2 separate regions of the Homo sapiens genome follow, and region 1 is linked to region 2. The links come from fine-mapping of genetic effects on plasma protein levels. A gene starts in region 2. The other region holds a variant in brackets. All regions are shown on one strand. Distances are between the middles of the regions.

Region 1 (8,950 bases), 380 kb before region 2:
CTACTAGAAATGGTTGTTCATGCAAGGTGTGTAAAAACAATAGAATACAATGTATTTTGTTTTGTTGTTAAAGGTTATAAAAGGCTTTTGCTTCTTTAAAATTTCTGAGTCATCACTTTGGCAAAATAAATAATTTATGGTAATCTGGAATTCCAAAATCAAACTTCCGTTTCAAAATTATCTTTCCTAATGCTTGGCTTTCTGGATGGATCAGAGGGCCCCTGAAAACATCCAGAAAAGAGGTAAACAGGATTATTTGACCTGTTTAGGTACATGGAATTGCCAAAATGATGTTCAATCTTCTTTAGGTTGTATTTGTGTGAATAATACTAATATATATCCCAAAATTTTATGGGATTTCTAAAATTCTAATGTCTAAGTATATGGTACCAATCACAATTATAGTTATTATGTTAAGTTATTGTAAACTACAGAAATAACCAAATTTCCTTGTATGAAGCTACTAACCCAAGTAGAACAACAACAACAAAAAATTAAATATCAAGAAAATACTTTCATGTTCAGCTAACACTGAAATTGTTTTTGTTTGTTTGTTTTGAGACAGAGTCTTGCTCTGTCACCCAGGCTGGAGTGCAGGGGTGCGATCTCAGATCACTGCAAACTCCACCTCCCGGGTTCAAGTGATACTCCGCCTCCCGGGTTCAAGTGATTCTTCTGCCTCAGCCTCTGGAATAGCTGGGATTACAGGCACCCACCACAATGCCTGGCTAATTTTTGTATATTTAGTAGAGACAGGGTTTCACCATGTTGGCCAGGCTGGGCCCGAACTCCTGACCTCAAGTGATCCACCCGCCTCGGCCTCCCAAACTGTTAGGATTAAAGGGGTGAGCCTTCGCGCCCAGCTGATTTTTATTTTCAATGTATGTTTTCTTCTTGTATGAAAGCTTTCTCATGCAAGAGGGCTGATGTTATAACAGTAGATTATTACGGTACAGTGTATTTTCACCAGGTAAAGAAAGTTTTTTATAGTTTGAATCTTCTGGAAACATCAGAGAATAACTGTCCTTTCCACACTACAAGAAAACTTCGGGACCTTGAATGGGTTCATAATCTCACAGCTGAGAAGGGTCCTCCGTGCTCTTAGAGCTGTGCACCCACTGGATCCCTTAAGGTAAAACTAACCAGGGAAAATTCTCCCAAGAAGAGGATGTCATCCTTGATGTGAACAGCTTTTCCCAAGTTCACAGGTGAAGACTTCTACTATCATGACGTTTTATCTTTGAATATTTTTTTTCTTGCTTATGCCTCTATAAACAATAGAAGTGAAAAAGGGGTCTGTTATGGGCACTAATGGGGTATACTTTTATTTGTAAAGGAGTTTGCAGCCAGCCTTATACGTGGATAACCTTATACATTAATAGATTAAAAAATGAAGGCCCTTGGGAGGCCGAGGTGGGCGGATCATGAGGTCAGGAGTTCGAGACCAGCCTGACCAACATGGAGAAACCCCGTCTCTACTAAAAATACAAAAATTAGCCAGGCATGGTGGCCCACGCCTGTAATCCCAGCTACTCAGGAGGCTGAGGCAGGAGAATCACTTGAACCCGGGAGGCGGAGGTTGCAGTACGCCAAGATCGCACCACTGCACTCCAGCCTGGGCAACAGAGTGAGACTCTATCTCAAAAAAAAAAAAAAAAAAAAAAAAAAAGAAGGCCCAATGTGGATAAGAAACTTTAATGGTACATACGTTCATACGTTGCCTCATAATAAGTCAAAAACAAAACATTGGTTCACTCCTCTTTTTTTTTTTGAGACAGAGTTTTGCTCTTATAGCCCAGGCTGAAGTGCAACGGCACCATCTCGGCTCATTGCAACCTCTGCCTCCAGAGTTCAAGCGACTCTCCTGACTCAGTTTCTGAGTAGCTGGGGTTACAGGGATGCGCCACCACACCCTGCTAAATTGTTTTGTATTTTTAGTAGAGAGGGGGGTTTCTCCATGTTGGTCAGGCTGGTCTCGAACTCCTGACCTCAGGTGATCCACCCGCCTCAGCCTCCCAAAGTGCTGGGATTACAGGCTGTGAGCCACCATGCCCAGCCAGAGTTTCCCTCTTCTCACCCAGGCTGGAGTGCAATGGCACAATCTCGGCTCACCGTAACCTCTGCCTCCTGGGTTCAAGCCTCCCAAGTACCTGGGGTTACAGGCGCCCGCCACCAAGCCTGGCTAGTATTTATTCATTTATTTATTTTTGAGACAGAGCCTCACTCTGTCACCCAGGCTGGAGTGCAGTGGCACTATCTCAGCTCACTGCAAGCTCCGCCTCCCAGGTTCAAGCCATTCTCCTGCCTCAGCCTCCCGAGTAGCTGGGACTACAGGCGCCCGCTACCACGCCCGGCTTATTTGTGTGTGTGTGTGTGTGTGTGTGTGTGTGTGTGTGTGTGTGCGCGCGCGCGCGCGCGCATGTGTGTGTGTGTGTATTTTTAGTAGAGACGGGATTTCACCATGTTAGCCAGGGTGGTCTCGATCTCCTGACCTCGTGATCCGCCTGCCTCGGCCTCCCAAAGTGCTGGGATGACAGTCGTGAGCCACCATGCCTGGCCGAGCCTGGCTAGTTTTTAATTTTTAGTAGAGACAGGGTTTCTCCATGTTGGTCAGGCTGGTCTCATAAACTCCTGACCTCAGGTGATCTGCTCTCATTGGCCTCCCAAAGTGCTGGTATTACAGGTATGAGCCACCGCACCCAGCCCTCGTTCACTCCTCTTAACCCACATCATGGGTTAAAGAGAACATTGCCAGGAGTCCTTCACTCTTCTAAAAGAAAGGGCATCATTTGTTAGGTCCTTTTTCCATGGTTTAATGTAAAAGAAGCAATGATTAGAAATGGATCCCTTGGCTGGGCACAGTGGCTCACGCCTGTAATCCCAGCATTTTGGGAGGCTGAGGTGGGCAGATCACAAGGTCAGGAGTTCTAGACCAGCCTGTCCAACATGATGTAACCCCATCTCTACTAAAAATACAAAAATTAGCCGGGCGTGGTGGCATGTGCCTGTAATCCCAGCTACTTGGGAGGCTGAAGTAGGAGAATTGCTTGAACCTCGGAGGTGGAGGTTGCAGTGAGCAGAGATTGCACTACTGCACTCCAGCTCTGGAAGACAGAGCAAGACTCCATCTAGGGGAAAAAAAAAAAAGAAATGTTTCCCTCATGTTAAGTTCTATAGCAAATTCTACTGTAAAGGCCACAGTTACACAACAGACACTAAATTCTCTTATAAAAGTTATGATATAATTGGCTAAACAGAGAAGTATCTGTGCAGCTGCTGGCACTTGTGGCCTGTGGAGAAATACATCAAATGAAGATTATAGAGATTCAGTGGTAGGGGACTGATGAAGAAATTGCCTAGTCAAGTGAGTAAACTCTTTATCTAGTTCATTCTTTTATCTATTTGATTTTAGAAGGTTTGGTTTATGGGGACCTTGGATAAGGATCATACTCTGAACTCTTGGTACTACCCTCCTAATAGTAAACAAAATTCTGGCAGGTCATTGTTATGGACTGAGTGCATGCACTAGGCACCAAGAGACCAAACCAAACTAAAATGGAATCCCT[C/T]CTGCTAAGACTTTAAGGAAACACCGGGGTTCTAGAACAGATCAGGTTTTTTGTGTTTTTTTTTTTTTTTTTTTTTTGGAGACGGAGTCTCACTCTGTCGCCCAGGCTGGAGTGCAGTGGTGCGCTCCCCGCCCACTGCAACCTCCGCCTCCTGGGTTCAAGCGATTCTCCTGCCTCAGCCTCCCAAGTAGCTGGGACTACAGGTGCATGCCACCACACCTGGCTAATTTTTTTGTATTTTAATAGAGACGGGGTTTCACCGTGTTGCCCAGGCTGGTCTCGAACTCCAGAGCTCAGGCAATCCACCCGCCGCAGCCTCCCAAAAGTGCTAGGATTACAGGCATGAGCCACCGCACTGGCCCAGGTGTTTTTTTTTTTTTTTTTTTTTTTTACTGCAAATCTCTATAACAAACATTTCTGACAGCATAGATATCCACTCCTTGAAGTTTCCATTAAATCTTTTAATCAAATTCATTTCCTCTTGCCTAGAGACCATCGAGTTTCAGATGATCATGCAACAGAAGTTCCAGCCAGTTCCAGGTGAAGACACCACCCCTGGCCATAAAGAAGTTACCCTGCTGGACCGGGAGCGGTGGCTCATGCCTGTAATCCCAGCACTTTGGAAGGCTGAGGCAGGTGGATCACGAGGTCAGGAGTTCAAGACCAGCCTGACCAACATAGTGAAACCCCATCTCTACTAACAATAGAAAAATTAGCTGGGCATGGGGTCGCGTGCCTGTAATCCCAGCTACTTGGGAGGCTGAGACAGGAGAATCACTTGAACCCGGGAGGCAGAGGTTGTGGTGAGCAGAGATTGCACTACTGCACTCCAGCCTGGGCGACAGAGCGAGACTCCATCTCAAAAAAAAAAGAAGTTACCCTGCCTTCACTAGAAAGAACAGGGCAAAAGTTCTGTGATCCCAATAGGTAAGGACTATGCCCCAAGCCAGAATGAAGCAGTTAGAGGAAAACAAAGAAACAAACAAACAAAAAACCATTAATCCCTCTGCCTCCCATAAAGATTTATGGGGATCACATCTCTCAGCGGGGAGATGAGGCAGGAAAATAGGGTCTGGAGGCAGAGAACATAAGGCCGATTCACACTTCAGCTACAACAGGAAATATCCTCTCCATAGGGCCTATGCTGTACATGACTTTGTAACTTTACTTCATCCTCTCCATTTACACAGGGTGTACCCGAAGTAACCAATGGAATCCTCTAGGGGGTATTTAAACTCCCAAAAATTCTGTAGCAGAGCCTTTGAACCCCTATGCTCAGGCCCCCTCCCATACTGTAGATTGCATTTTCATTTTCCTTTTTTTTTTTTTTTTTTTTTTTTGAGAAAGAGTCTTCCTTTGTCATCCAGGCTGGAGTGCAGTGACATGATCTCGACTGACTGCAACCTCCACCTCCTGGGTTCAAGCCATTCTCCTGCATCAGCCTCCCGAGTAGCTGGGATTCAGGCACGCCCACCACGTCTGGCTAATTTTTGTACTTTTAGCAGAGATAGGGTTTCAGCCTGTTGGCCAGACTGGTCTTGAACTCCTGGCCTCAAGTGTTCCCCGGCCTTGGCCTCCTAAAGTGTTGGGATTACAGGCTCAAGTCACCTTGCCTAGCTACTTTCATTTTCAATAAATCCCTTCATTCTTTCCTTGCTTTGTTTGTGCGTTTTGTCCAATTCTTTGTTTGAGATGCCAAGAACCTGGACACCTTCTACTGGTAACATCCTGACCTCAGGTGATCTGCCCACCTTAGCCTCCCAATGTGCTAGGAATACAGGTGTGAGCCACTATGCCTGGCCTAGATGTTTCTTTCTTTTTTTTTTTTTTTTTTGAGATGGAATTTTGCTCTTGTTTTATGGGTGGTCTTTTTGGAGTGATGAAATGTTCTAAAATTGTGAATCTACTAAAAACCACTAAAAGGTGATTTTGTTATGTGAATTAAATGTCAATAAAACTGATTAAGAGTCAGGATATTTGCATAGGTATATTTATCAAGGCAGGGGAATTGGAGTAAAGTGTTTAATACATGTAGAGTTGGCTAAATGGGGGACCAGAGCTTTATTCTTAATCAAATCAGTCTCTGAAAATTCAGAGGCTAGGGGTTTTTGTTGTGTTGTGTTCTGTTTTGTTTTGTGACAGAATCTTGCTCTGTTGCCCAGGCTGGATTGCAGTTGCGCAATCCCGGCTCACTGCAACCTCTGCCTCCTGGGTTCAAGCCATCCTCAGCCTCCTGAGTAGATGGGACTACAGCCATGTGCCACCACGGCCTGGCTAATTTGTGTATTTTTAGTAGAGATGGGGTTTCACCATGTTGGCCGTGGCTGGTCTGGAACTCCAGGCCTCAAGCCTTCCACCCACCTCGGCCTCCCAAAGTGCTGGGATTACAGGCATGAGCCACTGTGCCTGGCCGAGGCTAGGGTTTTTAAAGGATAGTTTGGGAGGCAAGGGAATGGGTACTACTGATTGGTTGTGGATGCATTCATAGGGGTGTGGAAAACGGTCCTTGTGTGGTGAGTCAGCTTCTGGGTGGGGTCACAGGAGAAGTTAAGTTAAGAGTCACAGATCCGGGTGGGGCTATGGGTCCTCAGAAATGCAAAAGCCTAAAAGAAATATCTCAAAAGGCCAATCTTAGGTTCTGTAATAGTGATGTTATCTGCAAGAGTAATTGGGGAACTTGTAAATTTTGTGATCTCCAGAATAATGGCTGGTAATCACTTATCTGTACACCTTAGTAAAATTCATCTCATCCTCCTAACCTGGTGGGTTTTTTTGCTTTGTTTTTGAGATGGAGTCTCCCTCTGTTGCTCAGGCTGGAATGCAGTGGCACGATCTCGGCTCACTGCAACCTCCGCCTCCCAGGTTCAAGGGATTCTCCTGCGTCAGCCTTCCGAGCAGCTGGGATTACAGGCGCCCGCCACCATGCCTGGCTAATTTTTGTATTTTTAGTAGAGATGGTGTTTCACCATGTTGGCCAGGATGGTCTCCATCTCCTGACCTCATTATCTGCCCGGGGGAGGCACTGCACCTGGCCACATTTTGGACTTTATTTATTTATTTATTTGTGTTTTTAAGGAGCAGAGAATTTAATAGGCAAGATGAAGGGGGAAGAAAGAAGGAAGAAACTCCCCTGTACAGAGACAGAGGGAGGGGGCACTCCAAAGCCAAGAGAGAGAACCCCCAGTTTGGACTTTAGAGGCAAGATGGGGGTTGGTTAGTTCTTACCTCTTACAGGGTCATTATTTTCTTTCTTCCTTCCTTTCTTTTTTTTTTTTGAGACAGAGTCTGGCTCACACAGGCTGGCGTGCAGTGGCGTGATCTTGGCTCACTGCAACCTCTGCCTCCCAGGTTCAAGCAATTCTCCTGTCTCAGCCTCCCCAATAGCTGGGACTACAGACGCACACCACCACAGCTGGCTGATTTTTGTATTTTTAGTAGAGAAGGGGTTTCACCGTATTTGTCAGGCTGGTCTCGAACTCCTGACCTCAGGTGATCCACCCACCTCGGCCTCCAAAACTGCTGGGATTACTGGTGTGAGCCACCACGCCCAGCCCCGGTCATTTTCTCACTGTTATAATATTTGGAAAGGCAGTTTCAAGATCTGCGTGTCTATCTCTCCACCAATACTATACAGCATTAATTCATTTAGCTATCTAGTAAGTTTTGAAATTAGATAGACTGATTCTTCTCCCTTTATACTGCATCTTCAAAATTGTTTCAGCTATTCTCATTCTATTACTGAAACGGTTCCCAGTCCAGACCCCAAGAGATAGTTCTTGGACCTCTCACAAGAAAGAATTTGGGGTAAGGCAACAGAGAAAAGCAAAAGCAATTTTATTAGAAAGTATGAGGCTGGGAGTGGTGGTTCACTCCTGTAATCCCAGCATTTTGGGAGGCTGAGGCAAGCAGATCACCTGAGGTCAGGAGTTCGAGAACAACCTGGCCAACTTGGCAAAACCCCATCTCTACTAAAAATACAAAAATTAGCTGAGTGTGGTGGTGCGTGCTTGGAATCCCAGCTACTTGGGAGGCTGAGGCAGGAGAATCGCTTGATCCTGGGAGGTGGAGGTTTCAATGAGCCACGATTGTGTCACTGCACAAGAGATCCCATCTCAAAAAAAAAAAAAAAAAAAAAAAAAAGTATGGGACGGGCTGAGGGATAAAAGACTACAAATTGGGTTCGGCATATACTGCTCGGGTGATGGGTGCACCAAAATCTCACAAATCTCCACTAAAGAACTTACTCATGTAACCAACTTTTCCCCCAAAATCTATGGAAATAAATTTTTTTTTTTAAAAAAGGAGAAAAAAACGTTAGGGCAAGAGAATTAAAGCTCATCTTTCTTAGCACAAAATCAATTTGTAAAATCTTTTTTTTTTTTTTGAAATGGAGTTTTGCTCTTGTTGCCCAGGCTGGAGTGCAATGGTGCAAACTTGGCTCACTGCAACCTCTGCCTCCTGGGTTCAAGCAATTCTCCTGCCTCAGCATCCCTAGTAGCTGGGATTACAGGCGCCCGCCACCATTCCCCATTTATTTTTGTATTTTTAGTAGAAACAGGGTTTCACCATGTGGGCCAAGCTGGTCTCAAACTCGTGACTTTAGGTGATCCACCCACCTTGGCCTCCCAAAGTGTTGGGATTACAGGCGTGAGCCACTGTGTCCTTCCAATTTGTAATACCTTAAATGTGAAAATAAAAAATCTCATGTACCCTATAAATATATAATACACCTACCATGTGCCAACAAAAGTTAAAAATTAAAATATTACAAAGTGAAAAAAAAAAGTAAATAAAGAGTGGCTACTCCATAGGCGGAGCAATGTATAGGCTGCTCAACTGAGTATACTTATAGTTATTTCTGGATTATATGCTAAACAAGGTGTGGATTATTCATGAGTTTTCTGGAAAACAGGTGGAGATTTCCCAGAAATCACAACTGGGGATTCCTCCCCTTTTTAGACCATATAGGGTAATTTCTGGGTGTTTCCATGGCATTTGTAAACTGTCATGGTACTGGTGGGAGTGTTCTTTAGTATGCTAATGTGTTACAATTAGTATTTAATGAGCAGTGAGGACAACCAAAGGTCACTTTCTTTCTTTTTTTTTTTTTTTTTTTGGGATGGAGTTTTGCTCGTTTCCCAGGCTGGAGTGCAATGGCGCGATCTCGGCTCACTGCAACCTCCAACTCCCAGGTTCAAGCATTTCTCCTGCCTCAGCCTCCCAAGTAGCTGGGATTACAGGCGACTGCCACCAAGCCCAGCTAATTTTTGTACTTTTAGTAGAGACGAGGTTTCACCATTTTGGCCAGTCTGGCCTCGAACTCCTGACCTCAGGTAATCCGCCCACCTCGGCCTCCCAAAGTGCTGGGAGTACAGGCATGAGCC
Region 2 (8,950 bases):
TCCTGAGAAACAGATGGACCGGAGCTGACGCGGCCTGGGGAAAGGGAGGGGGAGCTGGCTGGGTAGAAGCCGGCCTGGAGGCCAAAGGTGGCGTGTTCTGGGGGACACAGGCGAGCCAGGATTCCAAAAGGATGCTCCGGGTTCCTTCCCTTCCTCTGCCGTCCTCCCTCCGAGACTCTTAGAACGCAGCACTGCCTCGGCACCGTACTCGGAGTCTGTGAGGCTGTGCCCTGCTGTCCCTGACCCCTCCCTGTCCCTGCCCTGTCCGACAGGGCTCAGTGCTGTCAGAGAGGGACTACGAGAGCCTCGTCATGATGCGCATGCGCCAGGCGGCCGAGCGGCAACAGCTGATCGCACGGATGCAGCAGGAAGACCAGGAGGGGCCGCCTACGTAGCCCCAGCTCCAGCCATCCACCCCTCAGCCCTTTTCTTCAACGTCACCAATAAATTTTTTTTTTTTTTAAGATTTTACCTCTATCCCATACATAGGTATAAGGTGCTGGGCTCTGCCGCAGAGCGCTCCACCCAGGCCTGGCGCCCCTCCCAGGAAGTGGGCAGACCCCCAGGGAAACGCTCCGCAGGGTGAGAGTCCCAGAGTCCGTGCACAAGCAGAGCACAGGCGCAGCCACTCATCACAGCCCTTTATTGGCTTGGGCTAGCTATGCAGGAGCCACGCGCCAGGGCCGCTGGAGTGCCCAGCTCCGGCCCGGGGCAGCTGCCCGAGGAACATGGCCTACACAAGGCCCTCGGCCCAGGCCCGAAGCAGGAGGGCAGCTGGGAGCACCAGGGCACCGGGCACTGCCCTCTCCCACTGCTTGACGCAGGGTTTCAGAGAAGGCCATTCACTGCCCTTTGGGGCTGGGCCCATGGCGGTGATGATTTGGGAAGAGAGGAGCAAGGCAGACGGTGAGGCAGGAGCTTGGAGGTCAGGGCCCACAGCAGCCCCTCCACAGGGGTGCCCCGTCTGCAAATCAGCATGAGAAGGTCACTCCTTGTGCAGACACCACACCAGCGTCTGGCCCACCCCCGTCATGCTCAGCACACGGAAGCCCCTGCGTTCCAGCTTGTCCAGGACTATGCGGGGAGGGTCATCGACGTAGTATTCATAACTGCAAAGAGACAGGATGGGGGGGGTGAGGAGGGGCACACAGCAAGCTCCTGGTACAAAGCTAGTGTCTGCAGCAGGCAGCCTGGCCACTCTTGTAGTGACTCACACTTGCTGGCTGCTTGCTGGGCGCTGGGGTAAGTGCACGCCCCCTGCCTCCTCCCCTTCTAGGTACTTCACGAGCTATCTCATTTATTCTTCCCAACAAGCTAGTGAAGGTGCCACTGTTGTGGCCATTGATAGATGAGAAAACAGAGGGGTTAATCAGGTTCCCCAGCGTCCCAGATGGTAGACCATGTTAGTCTGACCACAGCCCTGCTGCCGCCCTCCCTGGGCTTGCTCCCCACCCAGGCTTCCAGGTAGGAGGAGGCTGAGGCTGCAGTGAGCCATGATTGCACCACCGCACTCCAGCCTGGGCGACAGAGACTCCATTTCAAAAAAAAATAAGCCTCCAGGCCCCTCACTGCCCTGGCTGTCCTGCAGTTCTGTAGCAACAAGGCTGAGCCCCAGTAGCTCCTGGCTCTGTGCGCCACTCCCTAGCATGGAGAGTGCTGGTAGTCCTTCTGTCAGGTTTAATTGATGCTGAAAGACCATGAAGCAGACAAAGGGCTCAAGCCCCAAGCTGGGCATGGAGAGGCAAGTGCCTCATGGCAAAGGGAGGGGGCTGGCTTCTGTCCCCGAGCCTTGACCCAGGGGCTGGGATCAGCCCTCCTCTTTCCCCGATTTGAACTGGCACTCACTCTGACAACTCTTTTCAGAGAGCCTGTGTAGCTTGGGTTCTCCCTGCCTCCAGGGGTGAGAGGAGGAATGGAAGCAGTAGTCACAGTTTAGACATGGAGGCATTAGGAAGAATGCCAAGGGAAATGGCTAGGTCCCCAGGCAGCAGCCACCCTGGAGGTAGGACGCAGGCTCCCTGCTCCCTGCTTCTAGGGCTTAGCTTTGCGACTCATGCAGATCCTCACGACAAAAACCTTTCTCTCTGTGCCTGTCTGTCCTTGATGGGGTCCAGCTTAGGAGAGGGCAGGGCAAGGAACAGTCTGCTAGTGGAGTCCTAGACCCAGGGAACGGACTCTGTTTCTGCGGTTCCAGTAAGGATGTGGAAAGCTTTCAGAGCAAGCCTCGTGGGGGAGAGGGGGGATGTTGGAGAGGCTACAGATGGGACCAACTCCTCCGGAGAACAGAGCCCCAGGATGCAGGCAGGGGGCTCTGATGCTGGGCCCTGTCCCTGGGCTTGGAGGTTGTATAAAGGGAGCAGAGGCAGGTCTAGGGGCTGGCAGGGAGAGGATACTGAGGGAGGCTGCTACTTACAAGTTGTTTCCCAAGGCTCTTCTCTTTGAAGCCCCCAGATGCTGCATCAGCTCTGGATCCGACTGTTCATCGCCCACCATAGTGGGGCCCACCTCCTGCAAGGTAAGCCACAGTGGCTGCTTGGCTGGCTGCCAGGAGGAGGTGGAAGGTCTTGCCTGTCCTTCCTCCCCTGCCTGCTAGCCCTGAGTAAGGTTCAGGTAAAGGCTACAGAGAGTAGCAAGGATTCTTAGGGGCTGAGCACAAGCTGTGAAGGGGTGGAGCCCATCAATGATCAGGAGGAGCAATGTAGGCGCCCTCCCTAGTGCCTTAAAGCTCAGCTTTAGCCAGGCAAAGTATCACGAGCCTATAGTTCCAGCTACTGAGGCTGAGGTGGGAGGATCGCTTGAGGTGGGAGGAGTTTGAGGCTGCAGTGAGCCATGATTGCACCACTGCACTCCAGCCTGGGTGACAGAGTGAGACTCCATTTCAAAAAAACAAAACAAAATAAACATGTAAATGAAAGAAGCCAGACTCAGATCACATTACCACAGAAAGGTAATTAGTGGTTATCTAGGGCTGAGGGACTTGGGGGAAATCAAGAGTGTCTGCCAGTGGGTACAGGGTTTCCTTTTGGGGTATTAGAAATGTTCTAAAACTGATTATGGTGATGGTTGCACAACTCTGAGTACACTAAAGAAACAACAACACTGAATTGTACACTTTAAATCAAAGAATTTATGGTATGCACATTACATATCAATAAAGCCATATCTTTTAAGAAATAAGAATCACTTTGGGGGGCCATTTCCAAGTATGGGTTCCCAAGCCCCAGACAGAGTTTTAGGAGGTCTGGGAAGGGACCCAGGAATCCACATTTTGGCAGCTGAGCAGATGGCTGCTTCACAAACCGCTGCCCAGGGCTCTGCAAGAGCTCTCTGTTGCGTGGTGAACCCACCAAGGGGGTTGTGTACCCTTTGCTGGTTCACCCCAGCACTGGGCAGTGAGCAAGGGCAGAGAGCACCTTGCTGCCCGTCATGTCTTTCTGAAGCTAAAAGGGGACTCCTGAGGGGCAATCAGAACCTTTTTACAGATAAGGAAACTGCGCCCAGAGAAAGGAACGTGACTTCTAACTCATGGTGTTCCCACCTCTAACTGCACAGCCCCTTCTCGCCTTCCTTTTTTCCAAGCAGGGTGTTCTTTCTTTTCTTCCTTCCCTAAAGCTTCAGGGATAGCCCTTCCTGGAAGTGCCTAAGGGTGCAGCTAGTTGCTGTTTATGGGTCAAGGACTTGGCACCGGGGTTTTAGCGCCTTGGCAGGTCCTTATCTTTTCCAAACCTCTTTCTCTCAGGTTATTCGCCCTTTTTTCCCCTGCGGAGCGGCTCTGTGCAGGGCACTAGGTGCTGCGCGTGAGGCCAGGGCTCCCTGGGTCTCTCCCGCCGACAGGTAGGACAGGAGCCGGAAGCGCCCGGAGGTCGCCCTGTTGCCGGGACGCACGTACCCGGGCCCCTTCGCGGCAATAAAGGCTTCAGGCCGGCCAGAGCTCGCTGAGTCCCGGAAGCCGAGCTGAGCCCGCTTCTCCACTCCCTCTCCCCGGCCAAGGGGGCGTGTCTGGGCGGGTTCCCGGTCCAGTCCCCGGTGGGTGCAGCCCAGGAGGGAGGCATGAAGGTGCAGTCGCAGCCCCCTAGGGCCTGGTCCCGGCTCCAAGTCGCCAGGCGGCCGGTACTCACCATGCGGATCTGGGTGCTGATGAGCAGGTAGGGCATGGTGCACGCGTCCCGGCCTGGCTCCCACCGGGGGCTCTAGGCTGGACGCCGACTCCAGCCCTTCTCGCGTCGGGACTGCGACGCGCAGCTGGGAGTCCCGTTACTCCGGCTCTGGCCACAGGCGGCGTCAATCCCGGGGCACCTTGCCCGTGACCGCCGTGGCCGCCAATCAGGAGCGGCTGCCGTGACGCGCCCTGCAGTCGGCGGTTCGGGGCCCGCCCCCGCCCTCCCGGCGGCGGACTTGGACCCCGGGGCCCACCTGAGGCTTCCGCCGAGTGATCCAGTTGCGGGAAGGTGGAGTGCGGGGAGGAGGGGGCGGTCCCACGACCTGGAAGGACACTATCCTGAAGCTCCAGCGTCCTCCAGGACGCTTAGTGCTGTTTTCTTTGCAGCCTGTGATCTTACTGCGTCCCCGCGCGCGTGTTGCCCCCGCGCCCGCTTCTTGAACACTTCAGGCCAGGTTCCAAAGTCCCCTGCCAGGCAGAGCCCAGAGCAAACGGCGTCCTCACGGAGGCCTCTCCAGGCCCCAGCCCACCCCTCTCAGAGACGCCTCGACAGCTTCAACGGGGCCCCACTTCCCCTCGCCAAGACATGCGCTCCAGAGATTCCTTAAGCGCTGAGGAGGCCGGGGCACGAGGCTCGGAGCTAGCCCTGAAGGCGACAACTAAAATACCACCCAGGGCGCACTGTGCATTCCCCCTCCCAGACTCTAATTCCAGCACAGAGGCGGATCCTTGCATTTCTGTGGACCCGCAGGAAAGTCTGTAAAGGAACCGCGCGCTTGGCTGGGTGCCAGGTCTGGAGTGACTGAATGGATGGAACCTGGCCTTCCCTCCCCTGAGCTTCCCGCGCAGCTGGACAGACGCGGCGCACGCGCAGGAGGTCACTGGGCAACACCTGGGGCAAATGAAACAACTTCCCCCGCACCAGCCACCAATGAGCGGCTGCGAGTTCCCAACCGTGTGTCCACGCCCCTCATCCGCAGTTATCAAAATCTGACAACTCATCCTTCTTTATCTGCCTTGTTGTGATTGGTTTTCTTTTTTCTTTTCTTTTTTTTTTTTTTTTTTGGACATGGAGTTTCGCTCTTATTGTCCAGGCCGGAGCGCAATGGCGCGATCTCCGCTCACCGCAATCTCCGCCTCCCAGGTTCAAGCGATTATCCTGCCTCAGCCTCCTGAGTAGCTGGGATTACAGGCCTGCGCCACGACGCCCGGCTAATTTTGTATTTTTAGTAGAGACGGCGTTTCTCCATTTTGGTCAGGCTGGTGGCGAACTCCCGACCTCAGGTGATCCACCCGCCTTGGCCTCCCAAAGAGCTGGGATTACAGGCGTGAGCCACCGCATCCGGCCTGTGATTGGTTTTCTAGAAAATAAAGCAAAACAAAAACAGCCTGTAGGTAGCCTTCCCTCCCATGGGAGGGTAATAATCTTCACTTTTTAAGAGGGGCCTTTATAGGGGATGCTGCCGTTCCAACACTTTGACAGACGTGGAGAGAGCTATAAGGGAAGCAGGAAGTTGTAATCCTAAACGTTCCTTAACTGGTCTAATTTATTATTCTGTAGTTCCTACCCCTGCCCTCTTACCCACTGACCTAACAAGTTAGCCAGAGAGATAAAACACATTCATGCTTAACAAAGGATGTGTTAAAACTGACGAAAGGGCCGGGCGCGGTGGCTCACGCTGCTAATCCCAGAACTTTGGGAGGCCGAGGCGGGCGGATCACGAGGTCAGGAAATCGAGACCATCCTGGCTTAACACAGTGAAACCCCGTCTCTACTAAAAGTACAAAAAATTAGCCGGGCGTGGTGGGGGCCGCCTGTAGTTCCAGCTACTCGGGAGGCTGAGGCAGGAGAATGGCGTGAACCTGGGAGGCGGAGCTTGCAGTGAGCCGAGATTGGTTGGGCCACTGCACTCCAGCCTGGGGCAGAGCAATACTTCGTCTCAAAAAAAAAAAAAAAAAAAAAAACTAACAAAAGATTGATGCCCAGGAGCTCCTACAACTCAGTGAGAAAAAGATGAACAATGGAAAAAACAGGGGTAACTGACTTGAATAGGCCCTTCACAAAAGAGGAAATAGAAATGACCAATAAACATATAACATGATGCCTAGTATATCATTAGAAATACAGGAAATACAAATTAAAGTCAATTTTACTTTTTTTCATTTTAACCAAATTTATTTAAACCCCAAGACTTTGTAGACACAGTGGCTCACGCCTGTAATCTAAGCACTTTGGGAGGCCAAGGTGGGAGGATCGCTTGAGCCCAGAAGGTTGAGGCTGCAGTGAGCCATGATTTGGTTTATTTTTAAGTAATTTATCCCTACTTAAAGACAGATTACCCTACATGTGAAAGCTATGTACAAAAATCATCCACTGATTAGAAGGATTTTTTTAAGTTATACAATTGTCCTTGGTTTTTACAATGATAAATGAAAAACATTAAAATTCTTCAGTTGAATAAAGTATGGAAGGATTTTTATGTTGTCATTTTTTAGTTAAAACAGAGCAAAATATAACTCACTGGAATATAGAGACAAGAGCTGAGCCGGGCACGGTGGCTCATGCCTGTAATCCCAGCACTTTGGGAGGCCGAGGTGGGTGGATCACTTGAGTTCAGGAGTTCGAGACCAGCTTGGCTAACATGGTGAAACCCTGTCCTACTGAAAATACAAAAATTAGCTGGGCGTGGTGGCACACACCTGTAGTCCCAGCTACTCGGGAGGCTGAGGCAGGAGAATCGCTTGAACCAAGGAGGCAGAGGTTGCAGTGAGCTGAGATCATGCCACTGCACTTCAGCCTGGGTGACTGAGTGAGACTCTGTCTCAAAAAAAAAAAAAAGTCAGATGTGGTAGCACATGCCTGTAGTCCCGCTTGAACCTGGCAGGCGGAGGCTGCAGTGGGCCAAGATTACACCACTGCACTCCAGCCTGGGCAACAGAGCAAGACTTCATCTAAAATAAATATATGAAAAAAAGATAAGAGCTGAATGAGCATGCCAAGAATGGAGAAAGGGGGTATTTTCACAGAAGCAGTATTTTTCCCAGTCCCATCTCCACCTGATGTCAATCAGAACACACCATTGGCCATTTTACAAAAAAACAAACAAAAACACAAATGCAATACGCTGGTGCACACATACCCATTACTGTATGTACAGCAAAGGAAAGGGGAAGGTGAAAATGAAATAAAACTATACTATATTGGTCGGGATGTAGTGGAACCAAATTGCAGTTTTCTAATTGAGGATGTAATCTTGGTCTGTAAGAACAGAGGTTTGGAGTAAAGTAGTAGGTTCCTTTTTTAGTAGACACCTGTCTCCTGCAGGAAAACGTCAATTGTGTATTCATCCTCCATTACCAACTGTGCAGGTATGTCTGTTTCATTGATTGACTGCCCATCAAATCCGAATCTGATCTGCCTCATTGACAAATCCTGTTATTCACAATAGGCTCTCATCAGTTTACTAGGCAGTGTATGCCTCTTAAACTGCGCCACAGAACTATCCTGCCACACCACCTTCAAACAAATATGATCGTTGTTCTCAGTCTTAACTTCTTCCTTGAGCTTCCATGGCCATGGCAAGCACCAGAATCTCTGCAGCTGCTGCTTCACAAAGCAGGTACTGTTACCGCCCTCAAGGGAGGGTCGCTTGACCCGTCCAGTGCAGTTCTTACCAATAAAATGAAACCAGGTTCAGTAAAGCAGAGCAGAAACGTTCATTGGTCAAGAATGGAAAAGGGGAGCTTCTGCTCAAAGCACCTGCTCCCTGGACATTGGGTAAAGGGGGATCTTAAGGGTTTTTTGGGCAGATAGGTGAAGACTGGGGTAGGGATTCCTGGATGGGTTCTTCCAGGAGCAGCTGGAGTGTGTAGATTCTTTTTGCACCTGGCACTGTTTGTGCTTAGCAAGGTACATTTCTCCGCACTGAGTGGAGATTTTAGTATAGCAGTGAAGCAGTAACTCAGGTCAAGGCAGCACTGCTGAGTTCAGTTCATCTTGTGGCTGGTTCCTGGTTATTGGCACCTGGCCTTTGTTTCTGTAAGCAAGCGCAGCTGGGAGGATGGTTAATTTCACAGGTTTTGGGACTTCCTGAAAGAACTGAGGGCCAGCGCAGTGGCCCCCGCCTGTAGTCCCAGCACTTTGGGAGTCCAAGACATGCATATCACCTGAGGCTGGGAGTTAGAGACCACCCTGGCAAACATGATGAAGACCCGTCTCTACTAAAAATACAAAAATTTGGCTGTGCACAGTGACGCATGCCTGTAATCCCAGCACTTTGGGAGGCCAAAGCGGGTGGATCACTTGAGGTCAGGCGTTCAGACCAGCCTGGGCAGCTGCTCTCTGCCCAGCGAAACCCTGTCTCTATTAAAAAATACAAAAAATTAGTTGGGCCTGGTGGCGGGTGCCTGTAGTCCCAGCTACTCGGGAGGCTGAGGCAGGAGAATCGCTTGAACCTGGGAGGTGGAGATTTCAGTGAGCCAAGATCAAGCCACTACACTCCAGCCTGGGTGACAGAGCAAGACTCCGTCTGAAAAAAATAAAATAAAAATAGAAAAATTAGCCGGGCATGGTGGCGTGTGCCTGTAGTGCCAACTGTTTGGGAGGCTAAGGCACAAGAATCACTTGAACCCTGGAGGTGGAGGTTGCAGTGAGCCCAGATCACACTGGGCAACAAAGTGAGATTCCATTTCAAAAAAAAAAAAGAATTGAGGTCATGTTGCGGTAACAGTACCAGATCCAACCAAACAAGCACATAAGCAACACCAGGAGTACAGAAGACTAAATTACTT

Alleles and levels. Positions count from the first base shown, and alleles are read on the strand shown. Strength reflects both the effect of a copy and how common the allele is.
As copies of T replace C in region 1, the plasma level of the protein whose gene starts at base 4,267 in region 2 goes down (weak association).

What was found. PIP is the posterior inclusion probability: the model's chance that the variant is causal. The UK Biobank Pharma Proteomics Project read protein levels with antibody pairs (Olink). The fine-mapping took linkage between variants from a reference panel, not from the people measured, so its PIPs are less certain.
Region 1: its variant is fine-mapped to the plasma level of the GCHFR protein (UK Biobank, PIP 0.98).

Annotation. Positions count from the first base shown.
Region 1 is chr15:41,139,418-41,148,367 of GRCh38, reverse strand. No RefSeq gene overlaps it. Among named protein-coding and RNA genes, the nearest start is that of INO80, 28 kb to the right of the region's middle. The variant C/T (reference allele first, on the strand shown) is at 3,567.
Region 2 is chr15:40,759,385-40,768,334 of GRCh38, reverse strand. GCHFR (GTP cyclohydrolase I feedback regulator) reads right to left here and starts at 4,267. Exons shown (of 3, transcript NM_005258.3): 1 at 4,119-4,267; 2 at 2,414-2,508; 3 at 627-1,109. The coding sequence starts at 4,154. The coding sequence ends at 986. It overlaps DNAJC17 (DnaJ heat shock protein family (Hsp40) member C17), which reads left to right. Exons shown (of 11, transcript NM_018163.3): 11 at 273-3,174. The coding sequence ends at 395. LOC124903474 (a long non-coding RNA gene) reads left to right here and starts at 7,067. Exons shown (of 2, transcript XR_007064599.1): 1 at 7,067-7,528; 2 at 7,609-7,861. It also overlaps the pseudogene SUMO2P15. RefSeq lists enhancers at 2,155-2,944, 3,722-4,587 and a silencer at 4,254-4,703.